4 linked regions of the Homo sapiens genome follow. The protein of the gene in region 1 purifies or fractionates together with the protein of each later gene. This does not show direct contact. Each region holds a gene or a part of one and is shown on either strand. Other genes may lie near its edges.

Evidence for each region. Proteins that work in one complex are often made in the same cells at the same time.
Region 2: the proteins of SOCS7 (region 1) and CELSR2 purify together in Homo sapiens (affinity purification with mass spectrometry; one large-scale study listed by BioGRID and IntAct). This does not show direct contact.
Region 3: the proteins of SOCS7 (region 1) and FAT3 purify together in Homo sapiens (affinity purification with mass spectrometry; one large-scale study listed by BioGRID and IntAct). This does not show direct contact.
Region 4: the proteins of SOCS7 (region 1) and STAT5A purify together in Homo sapiens (affinity purification with western blotting, with the first as the bait; one study listed by BioGRID). This does not show direct contact.

What each region holds. Positions count from the first base shown.
Region 1 is NC_000017.11:38,361,844-38,365,343, forward strand, and holds part of SOCS7 (suppressor of cytokine signaling 7), read left to right. Parts: intron 1-2,908; coding exon 2,909-3,013; intron 3,014-3,464; coding exon 3,465-3,500. UniProt on the Homo sapiens protein: Substrate-recognition component of a cullin-5-RING E3 ubiquitin-protein ligase complex (ECS complex, also named CRL5 complex), which mediates the ubiquitination and subsequent proteasomal degradation of target proteins, such as DAB1 and IRS1.
Region 2 is NC_000001.11:109,266,539-109,270,038, forward strand, and holds part of CELSR2 (cadherin EGF LAG seven-pass G-type receptor 2 precursor), read left to right. Parts: intron 1-1,009; coding exon 1,010-1,104; intron 1,105-1,312; coding exon 1,313-1,522; intron 1,523-2,042; coding exon 2,043-2,226; intron 2,227-2,341; coding exon 2,342-2,470; intron 2,471-2,571; coding exon 2,572-2,752; intron 2,753-2,885; coding exon 2,886-3,053; intron 3,054-3,155; coding exon 3,156-3,282; intron 3,283-3,394; coding exon 3,395-3,500. UniProt on the Homo sapiens protein: Receptor that may have an important role in cell/cell signaling during nervous system formation.
Region 3 is NC_000011.10:92,231,318-92,234,817, forward strand, and holds part of FAT3 (protocadherin Fat 3 isoform 1 precursor), read left to right. Parts: intron 1-3,500.
Region 4 is NC_000017.11:42,305,498-42,308,970, forward strand, and holds part of STAT5A (signal transducer and activator of transcription 5A), read left to right. Parts: intron 1-112; coding exon 113-205; intron 206-743; coding exon 744-950; intron 951-1,904; coding exon 1,905-1,999; intron 2,000-2,095; coding exon 2,096-2,226; intron 2,227-2,680; coding exon 2,681-2,836; intron 2,837-3,473. UniProt on the Homo sapiens protein: Carries out a dual function: signal transduction and activation of transcription. Mediates cellular responses to the cytokine KITLG/SCF and other growth factors. Mediates cellular responses to ERBB4.

The DNA of each region.
Region 1 (3,500 bases):
CTTACAGATGCATCACAGGGAGCTGTAGGCGTGTCTGCAGTTATTTCCTTCATTCCATGCTTAGTGGGTTTGGGGTGAGGCTATTTTTATGGTATGGAATGTGTTCTTGACTTTGGATGCTTTATAGTTGGAGGTAAAGGCTGCTTGTTGGTAATTAGGTGGCCTGGGTGGCCCTAGCAGTTATGCAGTGCTTAGTTCAGGGTCATCACATATAAATTAAAACTAGGAATTACAAATTTATGGGCTCACAGTGCATAAAAGACTCTCTAGAAGTCATACAATTTCTGTCTCTGCTTCCAAGGGAGTTCATGGGTTATCTCATAAAAATGATCCATGATTATCTGGTCTATTTTTAAAGACTTTTTTGGGCAAAGGGGATTACATGAGCTCTTGTCTTTTTAGGGGCTTGCAGTTCCTGCAGCTGTTAGACTTCTTTATTGTATCTAATTTAAGTCTGCCCTCTTGCAGCAGGGAACACAGTTGCTAAACTAGGAAGGCTGTAGAATCTCCTTTGGATGATGGGTAACTGCCTTCTCGTTTCGTAGGGAGCTTTTTCAGAGAGGGAGACCTTCTGTTATGTCAGTCACAGGTGAAGCTCCTGCATGAATAAGCTGGAGAAAAGTGGGGCTTTGCCCATGTCTCAGAAACTGAGTACTTCTCATTGGTTGTGACTGAGAAGCCTTTAAAAAAAATCCCAATCTCAAACTCCTTTGGATATCATGTCCCTCAAAAAGGTGATTGGAAGACTTACGATTTGGGAATGGATGCTTCCAGGAAAATGTTAAGCAGGCCAATGAGACTTGCAGCTGGGTAGACTGCTGTGAACTGTCAAAACAAGTGAATTGGTACCTGTATAGGCATCTACTGTAGTGGAGAAGGAGGTCTCTGTTCTTACCCAAGCCCAGAATTAAAAAATCTTATCTTGCGATACCATGTCTTTCTAGTTAATAGTTGTTTCCTCATTAAAGTAAGGAACATGGCTTGGTCACGGTCACGGTGGCTCATGCCTATAATCCCAGCACTTTGGGAGGTTGAAGTGAGCAGATCATCTGAGGTCAGGTGTTTCAGACCAGCCTGGCCAACATGGTGTGAAACCCCGTCTCTACTAAAAATACAAAAAATTAGCTGGGGCATGGTGCCGCACGCCTGTAGTCCAGCTACTCGGGAGGCCGAGGCAGGAGAATCGCTTGAACCCGAGAGGCTGAGGTTGCAGTAAGCAGAGATTTTGCCACTGCACTCCAGCCTGAGCGACTGAGCCTCTGTCTCAAAAAAAAAAAAGGAACACCACCTACATTTGTAGTTTGAGGTTCAGGTCAGCCTCAGCCCTCTTGAATGACGTCCTTTATGTTAAGTGCTCTACCAATAGTCTAGACTGCTCTGGCCTGTCAGGAAATACACTTGTCTGGCTCCATCGCATTGCTCTGGGCAGCCAGGCTTTCAGTTACCAAGCTGTATGGTGAGTCTGGTACCAGCTTTCTAGAACTTCCACTGATGGCTTTTGTTTATTTTTGACACAGGGCCTCACTTTGTCTCCCAGGCTGGAGTGCAATGGTGCAGTCTCAGCTTACTGCAGCCTCGACCTCCTAGGCCCAAACGATCCTCCCACCTCAGCCTCCAGAATAGCTGGGACTATAGGCATGCACCACCATACCTGAATAATTTTTATATTTTTGTAGAGACGGGGTCTTAACGTGTTGCCCAGGCTGGTCTTGAACTCCTGAGTGCAAGTGATTCGCCTACCTTGGCCTCCCAAAGTGTTGGAATTACAGGTGTGACCCACTGCACCTGGTCTCACTGATGACTTTTAGAAGAGCTTTTCTGTTTATCTTAATTAGTATTCAAGAGCTTTGTAAAAAAACTGTGTATTTAGGTTCTGAAAGCCCAGTTTCCTTTGGTAGATATTGGTCACCTCATTTTCTTAACGGGGAAACATTTAAAATACTAGCTGAGGGGCTCATTCAGCCCTGAATTAAAAAAAAAGGTGTTGGAAGGAACACCGTAAGGGCTAAATTAGAGAAATCCTGAGTTCTGACTTGTGCATCAGGCCTGCCAAAATAACCGTATTCCTGGCTATCAGCTTGTGTTCATATTAATAAAATACCTTTCATCCTCTCGTGACTCAAGTGGAGAGGGAATAGACAGAGTTGGGTGGCAAGGAGTATTGTATATGGCAGGGAACAGAACTGCATGACATGCTGGGAAGAAGAGAGGCCATGTGCCTCCTCCCACCAAGTTCCTATGGAGAAGCTGCCTCTTAGATTACCTGACTTTTGTCTGACTGTGAAAGTAGTTAATTTTTAGGACTATAAATTGTACTTTCAGCCTTTGTAGCCTCAGCTGTTAAGAACAGATATCTTATTCAGGTAGATTCTCTTATGTGTGAATACTCTGGAAAATCAAGATATGGACTGCCCTCTAGGAAGAAGTTAGGACTAACATTGGGAACTTTATCTGCATTCAGCTTACCGTACAGTTCTTAGGTTTTCTGGCCCTTGCTTTCCATGTCTGTTTGGGCATATAACAAGCCACTTGGCTTGCTTCCTAAGGCAGAAATTGATACACAATTCTGAAAAAATAAATGGTATGGGTTCTATTGGATAAAGAAGACCCCTTGTTTGAGGGTACGTTGTAAGTCAGTGGCGGAACCAGAATTAGATGGTTTTTCCACTGTCAGTCCCATGGTTTTGTCCTAAAGAATCCTTGACCCTTAACAGGGCAAAGGAATGATAGAATTTAAAAATTGACTTCCTGGTGTTGGGGTGATTTCAGCCCTGGGGGCATTAGGTTTTGAGCTTTCTGAGAGCAGCAGACCCCCAGCCTCGCCTGCTTGCCCTTTGCTTCCCTTTGCTTTCTGCATCAGCTTTGGGCAAGGCGCTTCTGTAACTTGCTTGCTCCATGAATCCCTCAGGTGAAACTGTGTCGCTTGTGGATGTGGACATTTCTCAGCGGGGCCTGACCTCTCCACACCCTCCAACTCCCCCTCCTCCTCCGAGAAGAAGCCTCAGCCTCCTAGGTATAGTTTCTTCCCCTCTCCACCTTCTTGCCTAGTGGGAGGGTGAGCTCCAGGGACTTGTTCTTTGCTGGGGGCCGACCACGCTTCTGGGTTTCCGATGATGACTCAATTATTTCCCAGCTCTTTCTCAGCACCCCGTCATCTCCCTAAGCAATTAAATGGGTCTCACCCGCATGCTGTAATACTTACTATACATATATTAATTCAGTTTACATTTATCTTGCCTTGAACCCACTGCTATTGGGCTGCATTAGGAATATCCTTACTACCCTGCTTTCCAAAAGCAAAACAGAGTAAGATGATTGTTGCCCTCTGTGCAAAAAGACTGGGTGAAGGTTGGGCCATCCTGCCCCAGAGGGCAGCCTGATAGTCCTTCTCCCTCTCCTCTGCCTTCAGCGTGCTCATTCTGTGCTCACATTTCTGAACCTCTTGCTTTTGTTCTCTCTTCTAGATGATATCAGTGGGACGCTGCCTACATCTGTCCTTG
Region 2 (3,500 bases), on another chromosome or scaffold:
GCCGCCACCACACCTGGCTAATTTTTTTTTTTTTTTTTTTTTTTTTGTATTTTTAGTAGAGACAGGGTTTCACCATGTTGGCCAGTCTGGTCTCGAACTCCTGACCTCATGATCCGCCTGCCTCGGCCTCCCAAAGTGCTGGGATTACAGGCGTGAGCCACTGCACCCCACCACATTTTGGACTTTTTTTTTTTTTTTTTGAGACGGAGTCTCGCTCTGTCATCAGGCTACAATGCAGTGGCATGATCTCGGCTCTCTGCAACCTCCACCTCACAGGTTCAAGCGATTCTCCTACCTCAGCCTTCCGAGTAGCTGGTACTACAGGCGTGTGCTACCATGCCCAGCTAATTTTTTATATTTTTTTAGTAGAGACAGGGTTTCACCATGTTGGCCAGGATGGTCTCGATCTCTTGACCTTGTGATCAGCCCGCCTCGGCCTCCCAAAGTGCCGAGATTACAGGCGTGAGCCACCGTGCCCAGCCCACATCTTGGACTCTTAACAAAAATGCTGAAAAACCTGCACTGTGCTTGGCATAGGGCTGTGCTAGAGATTCAAAGATGAATCATGCAGGGTTCCAATCGTCAGCTCACCACCGAGTCCTGGAGTTACGCCACCACAAAGGCAGACAGTCTGGGGAGTAGGGGGTGTTGGCTGCTGACCCAGGACACCCAGCCCAGGATGGGGGCTGGCGCTGGTCCTGGACTGGCAATGAGCAGGTTCATAGGCAGGAAGTGGCGGAGAGCACAAAGTGGTGGCTGGAGACAGGCAGGATGGGGGCTCAAGGAGGTCGTATGCCCTGTTCCCCTAGAGCCCATGTGTGGACTGATCTTGCGGAGATTTTTGGCCCTGGTGTTCTACATACCTGTCTTCCTGTTTCACCAGGGCCCTTGTTTGCTAGTTACTGTCCCCGGCCCATGAGGTGCTGGCCTCCAGCAGAACCTCTCAGCCAGTCTCAGGGGCTTCCTGTGTGTCTCCCTGAGGCCGGCCCTTTTGGCTTCCTTCCCCCAGGGACTGCTGTGCGCCACTGTGATGAGCACAGGGGGTGGCTCCCCCCAAACCTCTTCAACTGCACGTCCATCACCTTCTCAGAACTGAAGGGCTTCGTAAGTGAACCCCCTCATCTCCATCTTTTCCCTGTCCTTCGTCCTGAGTCTCACTTGCCCCCACTCCCATCTTTGAGAACGGGGCTTCTGGAATTCCAGCCTGTGTGTTCCTGGGCTCCCAGCTGGAGAGGCCGTCTCTCACCTCCTGAGGTCCTTTTGCTCCAGAGTTCCTGCCCTCACTCCTGCTCCTCCGCTCCGTCCTGTCTAGGCTGAGCGGCTACAGCGGAATGAGTCAGGCCTAGACTCAGGGCGCTCCCAGCAGCTAGCCCTGCTCCTGCGCAACGCCACGCAGCACACAGCTGGCTACTTCGGCAGCGACGTCAAGGTGGCCTACCAGCTGGCCACGCGGCTGCTGGCCCACGAGAGCACCCAGCGGGGCTTTGGGCTGTCTGCCACACAGGACGTGCACTTCACTGAGGTGGGGCTTGGAGGATGCAGGGCTGGCTGGTTAGATAGGGGTCATGGTGAGTGAGCCTGCTCATGGCAACCTGGGGGGCAGAGGGGGCCCTCCCATCCCACCTACAAGGAGCTCCCTGCTGGCAGGAGGCCTCCATGAAACCCTGTGACCCCTGGCCCAGCCCTCTTCCCAACCCTTCTCATAGTAACATATGTGTGTTGGGGCATGGTCTGACCCAGAGCAGAGGCCTGCCTGTGGTACCATGGGCTGGGAGGAAGCAGTATCTCAGGACATGTGTGTGGGTCCAGGCACAGGGCTGGGAAGCTCTTATGTAGAGAATGAGGAGGAGGGCTTAGGGGCAGAGCATCCAGTGACCTGAGTGGGCAGTGCGGTCCAGGAGCATTTCAGGGGAGGCAACAGTGAGCACAGAGGGAGGGGCCTGGTGGGGAGCAGGGACTGGCCCGGGCACAGGCCGGGGCTCCATGGTGGGGATGTCAGGTGTGGGTTGTGAGCACACCCACCGTGACCTTGCCCACCCCAGAATCTGCTGCGGGTGGGCAGCGCCCTCCTGGACACAGCCAACAAGCGGCACTGGGAGCTGATCCAGCAGACAGAGGGTGGCACCGCCTGGCTGCTCCAGCACTATGAGGCCTACGCCAGTGCCCTGGCCCAGAACATGCGGCACACCTACCTAAGCCCCTTCACCATCGTCACGCCCAACATTGGTAAGGCTGGTGCCTGGGTTGGGGAGGGGTTTGTGGAGGGAGTCCCCGACAAGAGCGGCTGTGCTGGGGTCCTGCCTGCCTCACAGGTCCGATCTGTGACCATCCCCTTCCTTAGTCATCTCCGTAGTGCGCTTGGACAAAGGGAACTTTGCTGGGGCCAAGCTGCCCCGCTACGAGGCCCTGCGTGGGGAGCAGCCCCCGGACCTTGAGACAACAGTCATTCTGCCTGAGTCTGTCTTCAGAGGTCAGTGGTGGCCATGGATTGAGTTGGGAGCTGGACCCCAGTGTCTGTGCAGACTCCACAGAGAGCAGGGCCCAGCTAAGTGTGACAGTGTCCCCTCCCAGAGACGCCCCCCGTGGTCAGGCCCGCAGGCCCCGGAGAGGCCCAGGAGCCAGAGGAGCTGGCACGGCGACAGCGACGGCACCCGGAGCTGAGCCAGGGTGAGGCTGTGGCCAGCGTCATCATCTACCGCACCCTGGCCGGGCTACTGCCTCATAACTATGACCCTGACAAGCGCAGCTTGAGGTCAGCAGCTAGGGGACAGGTGTGGGTAGGGGTATGGGTCGGGCGGTGAGTGCTGAGGCATGGAGGGGGTCGGGGGCGTCTCCCCAGTCATGTGACTGCCGTGGTGACTGTGCACCTGACTGCCCCACATCAGAGTCCCCAAACGCCCGATCATCAACACACCCGTGGTGAGCATCAGCGTCCATGATGATGAGGAGCTTCTGCCCCGGGCCCTGGACAAACCCGTCACGGTGCAGTTCCGCCTGCTGGAGACAGAGGAGCGGACCAAGCCCATCTGTGTCTTCTGGAACCATTCAATCCTGTGAGCCTGCACTGCCCTCGCCCCCTCAGGCTTCGGGCTGAAAGTCCAGGCCCCTGCATGCCTCACCCTCCTTGTCTCCCTGACCCTGCCTTCCTCACACAGGGTCAGTGGCACAGGTGGCTGGTCGGCCAGAGGCTGTGAAGTCGTCTTCCGCAATGAGAGCCACGTCAGCTGCCAGTGCAACCACATGACGAGCTTCGCTGTGCTCATGGACGTTTCTCGGCGGGAGGTCGGGCCCACAGGGGCAGCTGCAGAGCCGTGGGTGGGCACCCAGGGCACGGGGCTGGGTGCTCAGGTCCTGCCCTTCCTAATTCCCTGGCCCCCTGCCACCTACTCTGCAGAATGGGGAGATCCTGCCACTGAAGACACTGACATACGTGGCTCTAGGTGTCACCTTGGCTGCCCTTCTGCTCACCTTCTTCTTCCTCACTCTCTTGCGTATCCTGC
Region 3 (3,500 bases), on another chromosome or scaffold:
AAAAAATTTGTAAAAAATGGCTTACAAAGTAACATTAGCTTCCAGAATGTGAGTGAAAAGGCAGACTTTTACCTTGGACGTTCTCTATGACTTGATCCTACTTGTACTTTTCAGAGCAGTTGCAAATAATATTTCAGTTAATTCTTTCTTTCTTTTCTTTTTTGAGATGTTGGAGATAAGCCCAGCTGTTGAATGAGGCACAGTTATGAAAGGTTAAGTGGAAGTTTAATTGTAACTTCAGGACTTCAACTAAATTAAATTCCAAACAATCTGAAAAAAATTGTAGCCTTTTCAGTACCATGGAAGGTCAAAAAGTGAGCACTCTGGAGCAGCTATTGATGTTTTATATTTTGAGATAAGCCCCAAATTATTAATGCTACTAAATATCATTGAACATTATTTGATAATTGTAAACATCTAAGAGTATGCCAGATGACACAGATTAAATTTAGTGACAAATGTGCTTAATGACAGTATAAATATCAGGGTTTTTTTTTTTTGTCAGATAAATTCTATGTAAGTCTGTGTGTGTTTTCTTTCAAAGCAAAATGAGGCTATATCTTGGTAGCAGGATCAGCTTGGTCTTTTTTGAAACCTAGAGCATTTATCACACATGACATTTTGTTGATTTTTTAAGTCTATGTGATCAATATTTTGGACCTCTGAAATCTATTTTTGATTGTGGTTTGAAATTCTCTGTTGGTTCTAAGTGGTGGCTTAATGATAGCAGTTGCTGTTGTGATTGGGTGAGCAGTGTGTTATGTGATTCATGTGGTACCGTCCCATGCTAGGGTGGATTTTGCAGCTAGGGTTTTCTCAGATTGGCCTGGCTATGGAGAACTTCACTGCAAAGAAATGTACACATGAAAGTGGGCCAAATGCAGATGACTTTAACATCGCCCATGTTATGGATAGAATGGGGTGTGAATCTTTCCCACACTTTCCACTTAAAAAAAAAACCTTTGCTAATAACAGTTTCAATCAAATGAATAAGAATTCAGAAGTGTGTGGTAATCTCTCTTGAGAATTTGGTACCTATCTGATAGGACTGTAAAGGCATTTCAGAATGTCAATTAAATGGAAAAATATGCCTGGAATTGAATATAATTAAGAAATGTTGAAGTCTGGTGTCTACATATTCAGACACTGTATAAGATGGTTTAATTAGTGAACAAGGATTTGGATTTATTGACAGAAGGTCTCTTTCTCATGGCATGTTTCACTCATTAAAAGCTCATAATGTCTTGGATCTTTTTAGCTGTTGGAACTTGACCATTTGTCATTTTGTGCTTCTTGACTTCAGTGATGTCGTTTTTTTTTTTTTTTTTTTTTTTTTTGTTTAACTGTGCAACTGATTAGGATGATGTTGCTTCTCTCATTGATGATTATTTCCATGGAGTGGACGCATGGTGTCTTGTAAACATTATGAAGCATCACCAAAGCACTAGGCAAAACTCAGTACCTCTGAAAAACAACAATTGGGAGGTAGAATTATTATTGTGGAATTTTTGGCCTAGCAACTTAGAAGTAATTAGAGTAACTTCCTCTTTATAACTACTAGCTTTATATTATATTTACCTGATGGCAGAATTTACATTTAAATTCACATTTCTCTACATCTCTCTCAGTTTTTCAGTTAATGGTTTATTAGTTTAAATCCTTTTTATTCCTGACTGTTGGGCTGAAACAGTTTCTAATCATACAGAAGACTGAAATTCTTTTTTAATATTCTTGTTGTTGGATATATTTCTTTTTGAACTGCATTTGATGATTATAAGTGCCTGAAAGAACTGCAGTTAGTAAAGAGAGAACTTGGGAATGTTGACAAGTGAGGTAGGGAGAAACATGGTTCAGTTAGTCCTTGAGGATTTTTCATTACCTGTTTATAACTTAGATTTTGGCTGTCTCCTATACTGGTACTAATGTGAACAGCTACTTTATAAGATTTTTTAATTCCTCATCTTCATAGGTATGTTCTCTAAGTCAGAGCTATTTAAAGTAATCTAGCGTTCCATCTTTCCTGTAGACATAGCAGATCATTCACAGTCTGGTTGAACTAAGTACACATTACATCGTTGGTCGTTTTGGTGGCATGTGCTGGGTTCTTCAGGCCCGTGTCATTGTTGGCAAAGTATACTAAGAGTGCTACTATTATCTTGGACTAATTTTTTCATGGAGCATATTAAATAAATGTGGTGTCTGACCCTTCAAAAGTTAGCTTCCTCACCTGAGTGATGTTCAGCTAAATAGGTATAAGTCGTAATGTATGTGTGATCCTAAGTCAGTAAGATGGTGAACTGAAGTGACATCATCTGCTTGGAAGTCCCTGGATTAACAATGGGACTTATATTTATATTCAGAAGACAACTGCTACAATGAGGAAATTGGGCAATCTAGGCAATTGAACAATTGAATGGGAAATGTAAGACAAAACATATTATATTGCCAGATCAATTCCCTAGATCTTGTTGAATTATACGATAATTAGATAATCTTCTTTTATTTGGAAGTGTACATTTTGTAAGTGTAATAACTTGCAATAATCACTTTATTCCTAAGTTGTATTCAGCAGTGCACATGTTGTGTTCAGTTTACATTCTGCATATTTTTGTTAAATAGGTAGTATTAATAACATATTTTACCTCATATCCAAAGAGAAAGAGGGAGATGCAGGTATTTTGAGATTTATCACTTTCATACAGCTCATCAGTGGTTACTATAATAATCCAAGTGAATAAACCTAGATTGTTCTTTATACAATAGATATGTTTTTAAACATTGAGTGTAAATGACATTTTTCAAAACAAATCACATCTTAAATGCTTTCAACTAGGGAAAATACACTCTTTATTTAAACAGATGTGGCAAATTATTTTTATAAAGTAAATAACAATTTGTCTCTCTTACATTTATCTGTTTTTTAAGTTTAGATTTTGTATATTAAATTTCTCAAAGAGATGCAAGAGTGTATACATATTGGAAATACGTTTTTGTTCAAATATATAATAAAATGAAAGAGTTTGACCTTCTCCCTCAGTACTGCTTTGACGAGAAGTGGCATCAGAGGGGAAAATAAAGGGAGAAGATGGAACTAGAATGAGAAAAAACAGAAATGTCCACCTAGTTTATGGAGATGTTGAGGAAATGTTAAAGTTTAAGAATTTCTGGGCCAGGAGTGGTGGCTCACGCCTGTAATCCCAGCACTTTGGGAGGCTGAGGCAGGCAGATCACCTGAGGTCAGCAGTTCGAGACCTGCCTGGCCAACATATAGTGAAACTCCGTCTCTACTAAAAAATACAAAAATTGCCAGGCACGGTGGCTCATGCCTGTAATCCCAGCATTTTGGGAGGCCGAGACCAGTGGATCACAAGGTCAGGAGTTCAAGATCAGCCTGACCAACATGGTGAAACCGTATCTCTACTAAAAATATAAAAATTAGCCAGGTGTGGTGGTGGGTGCCTGTAATCCCAGCTACTCAGGAGACTGAGACAGGAGAATCT
Region 4 (3,473 bases), 3.9 Mb from region 1:
ATATCAAAAAAAAAAATACATAAAAAAAAATAAAGCAGATTGGGCATGTTGCCTAAGCAGAGGGCACGTGGTGGTCACGCCCCATCAACTTGGGTTCCTTTGACTCCTGTAGACTCTGTCCCTACCTGTGGTTGTCATCGTCCACGGCAGCCAGGACCACAATGCCACGGCTACTGTGCTGTGGGACAATGCCTTTGCTGAGCCGGTGAGTCCCCGTGGGAGCCCTACCCCAGCACCCCCAGGCCCTAGGACTCACCTGGGGTCAGCCCCACCCCTTGGGCCCCTGCTGAGTGGTCCTTCCTCACCCCAGGGCCAGCCCAGAGGTGAGGTGAGGCCAGAAGGGCTGGGGTGCTGGGCGCCTGCCTTCCACCATGGCCTTGGCACTCTGGGTTCCAGGTTCCTGGACTGGGGTCTGTGAGGACTGTGAGCTTGGTCTTTGGATCCTGGTCTGGGATCCTCCTTTGGCAGATGGCTTGGGTCCTTGCTCTCTGTTTTCTGTTTCCTGGTCTGCATCTCTGTCCCTGCATGCCCCCACCCCCTGCATCGGTTTTCTTCCCTGCAGGCTGGGAAAAAAAGTGCAAGCTAGTATATAAAAGCCGCCGCATTTCCTGCCCTTGCATTTGTGTCACCTTTCTGGATCTGTCTCAGTCTCCTCTGTCTCTAGGTGTCTGTGTATCTTGTGTGTGTGTGAATATTTCCAACTCCCTCAATCTACCTTTTCCCCTCTCTTGTCTCCCTCTCAGGGCAGGGTGCCATTTGCCGTGCCTGACAAAGTGCTGTGGCCGCAGCTGTGTGAGGCGCTCAACATGAAATTCAAGGCCGAAGTGCAGAGCAACCGGGGCCTGACCAAGGAGAACCTCGTGTTCCTGGCGCAGAAACTGTTCAACAACAGCAGCAGCCACCTGGAGGACTACAGTGGCCTGTCCGTGTCCTGGTCCCAGTTCAACAGGGTGAGGGGCCCAGCTGCCAGCCGCCCACCAGGGCCCACCGGGGTCTGTTGCTCCTCCACCTCACAGACAGGTTACTGCCTGGGGCTAGCACCCCACTCTCCACCCCCAACCACTCTCTCCTACAACCAGGAGAGATGGGGGCCCCTAGCCTCAAGAAATGCAGGCAGGGGCTATAGGAGTTGTGCTTAGTTGTGAAGCCAAGAGCGAGATGACGGAGGGCCCAGGGCTGGGAGTCAGGATCCTTGGGTTCTGGGCCTAGATGTGTTTGCTAATTTTCTTTTTTTTTTTTAGAGACAGAATCTCATTCTGTCACCCAGGCTGGAGTGCAGTGGCGTGATTTCAGCTTACTGTAACCTCTGCCTCCCGGGTTCAAGTGATTCTCGTGCCTCAGCCTCCTGAGTAGCTGGAATTATAGGTGCCTGCCACCATGCTGGGCTAATTTTTGTATTTTTAGTAGAGATGGGGTTTCACCATGTTGGTCAGGCTGGTCTCGAACTCCTGACCTCAGGTGATCCGCCCACCTCGGCCTCCCAAAGTGCTGGGATTACAGGCGTGAGCCACCACGCCTGTGGCTCTGGCTCTCCTTCTGCCTCTCTCCTTGCTAATTTTTGAAGACCCATCCATTCTCTGTGCCTCAGTTTCCCCACCTGTAAAATGAGGGGATGACTTTGGAGGAATGACTTTGGAGGCCCCATCCAGCCTAGATTATTCTTTACACCTCTTACTCCCACCCTTGGGCTGGTCTTGGACCCCTGTGTCTTAGAAGTGAGTTTCCTCTCTGTTTTCCTAGGGTACAAGTTGGGGGCTGTGTCACTTTATGGTCTGCTGGAGTGTGGTGGCAAGCAGGGGTGAAGAACTGGGAGAAGACTGGGTGGGGGCAGGAGGGCCCTGACTTTCCTGGGCCACCTGTGACCTGGGGCACCAGCCCTGACTCGGGGGTTCCTGGGCCCTCAGGAGAACTTGCCGGGCTGGAACTACACCTTCTGGCAGTGGTTTGACGGGGTGATGGAGGTGTTGAAGAAGCACCACAAGCCCCACTGGAATGATGGGTAAGGAACGGGGGCTGCAGGGTCAGGGGCCAGCTGTGGGCGCAGAGAGACTGTGGCTGTGGCCCAGTGGTGACGCTCAATGCTCCGTGCACCCAGGGCCATCCTAGGTTTTGTGAATAAGCAACAGGCCCACGACCTGCTCATCAACAAGCCCGACGGGACCTTCTTGTTGCGCTTTAGTGACTCAGAAATCGGGGGCATCACCATCGCCTGGAAGTTTGACTCCCGTGAGTGCCCGTTTTGCCCACACTCCAGCCCCAAGGCCCGGTCTCTTGTTCCCTTGCCCCGCCACCCCACCCTCCATCGGGCCTGTGTCCTTAGAAGGTACCCAGCGGGAAGCTTAGTATGAGAGGGCTGTGGCTTGGAAATGTATTCTCTTTCTATTGTTTTCCATTTTGGAGAACCTGAAGTCCCCAGCCCCATAGACTCCAGGACGGCTGGGCGAGTCCTCCTGCAGTTTCACGCTCTCCCCTCTCTGCCACGACCCAGCCTTGTTGGTATCTGCTCATCTGGTTTGCTGAGTAGAACATCCCGCATCGGCTTTCTTCCCTACAGGCTGGGGCTGCAGCGCAAGCTACTATATAAAAGCCCAGATTTCTCTTGCAAGCCTGCCCTAAAGCCCCACAACCTTGGTCCTCCTGCTGCTGGTGGATTATGGGAATGAGGCTGTTCTTTTCACAGCGGAACGCAACCTGTGGAACCTGAAACCATTCACCACGCGGGATTTCTCCATCAGGTCCCTGGCTGACCGGCTGGGGGACCTGAGCTATCTCATCTATGTGTTTCCTGACCGCCCCAAGGATGAGGTCTTCTCCAAGTACTACACTCCTGTGCTGGGTGGGTACTGCCCCAGGACCCTGCCGGCTGACTCCCCCGGGCTCTTCCCCAGCCCATAGACAAAGCCTTGGGCTGCGCCGTGGGGACTTCCCCAGGAGGAGCCTAGGGGCCATGTCCCCTGTGGGTTTTGGCCCATGGGGTGGTGGAGAGGATTTCAGGGCTCACAAATGAGGAGAGGGAACGAGAAACCCGTCCCAGCTCTCTTCTCTGCAAAGTGAAAGCTGCATGGATTCTCACTTCTGCACCCTCGGAGGAAGGGGTGGCAGCACTGTAGGGAGTGGCCGGGATCATTCGAGCCCACAGATAGTGCTCCGCTCCCCACCTCACCAGCTGCTCTCCACACCCTGCTCACAAACCTTCCCCCGAGTGGAGTGCAGGCAGCAAAAGGGAGAAGTCTCTCTTCTTCCAGCTGCCCCAAATCCATTGGTTGGGTTTGCTTGTTGATTCTCATTCTTTGACAGGGGTGGGAGCAGGGAGAGGGAAATCAGATGGCCAGAAAAAGAACCAGAAGGAATGGGATTCAAGCCAGGGGTCTCAGTGACCCTCAGGCAGGATTCATCAGCTGGTGTTTATTGGGGGTCCTTGGGAAATCTCATCCCAGCTGAGAACACAAGGTGATGTGAGCAGGAGGGAGACT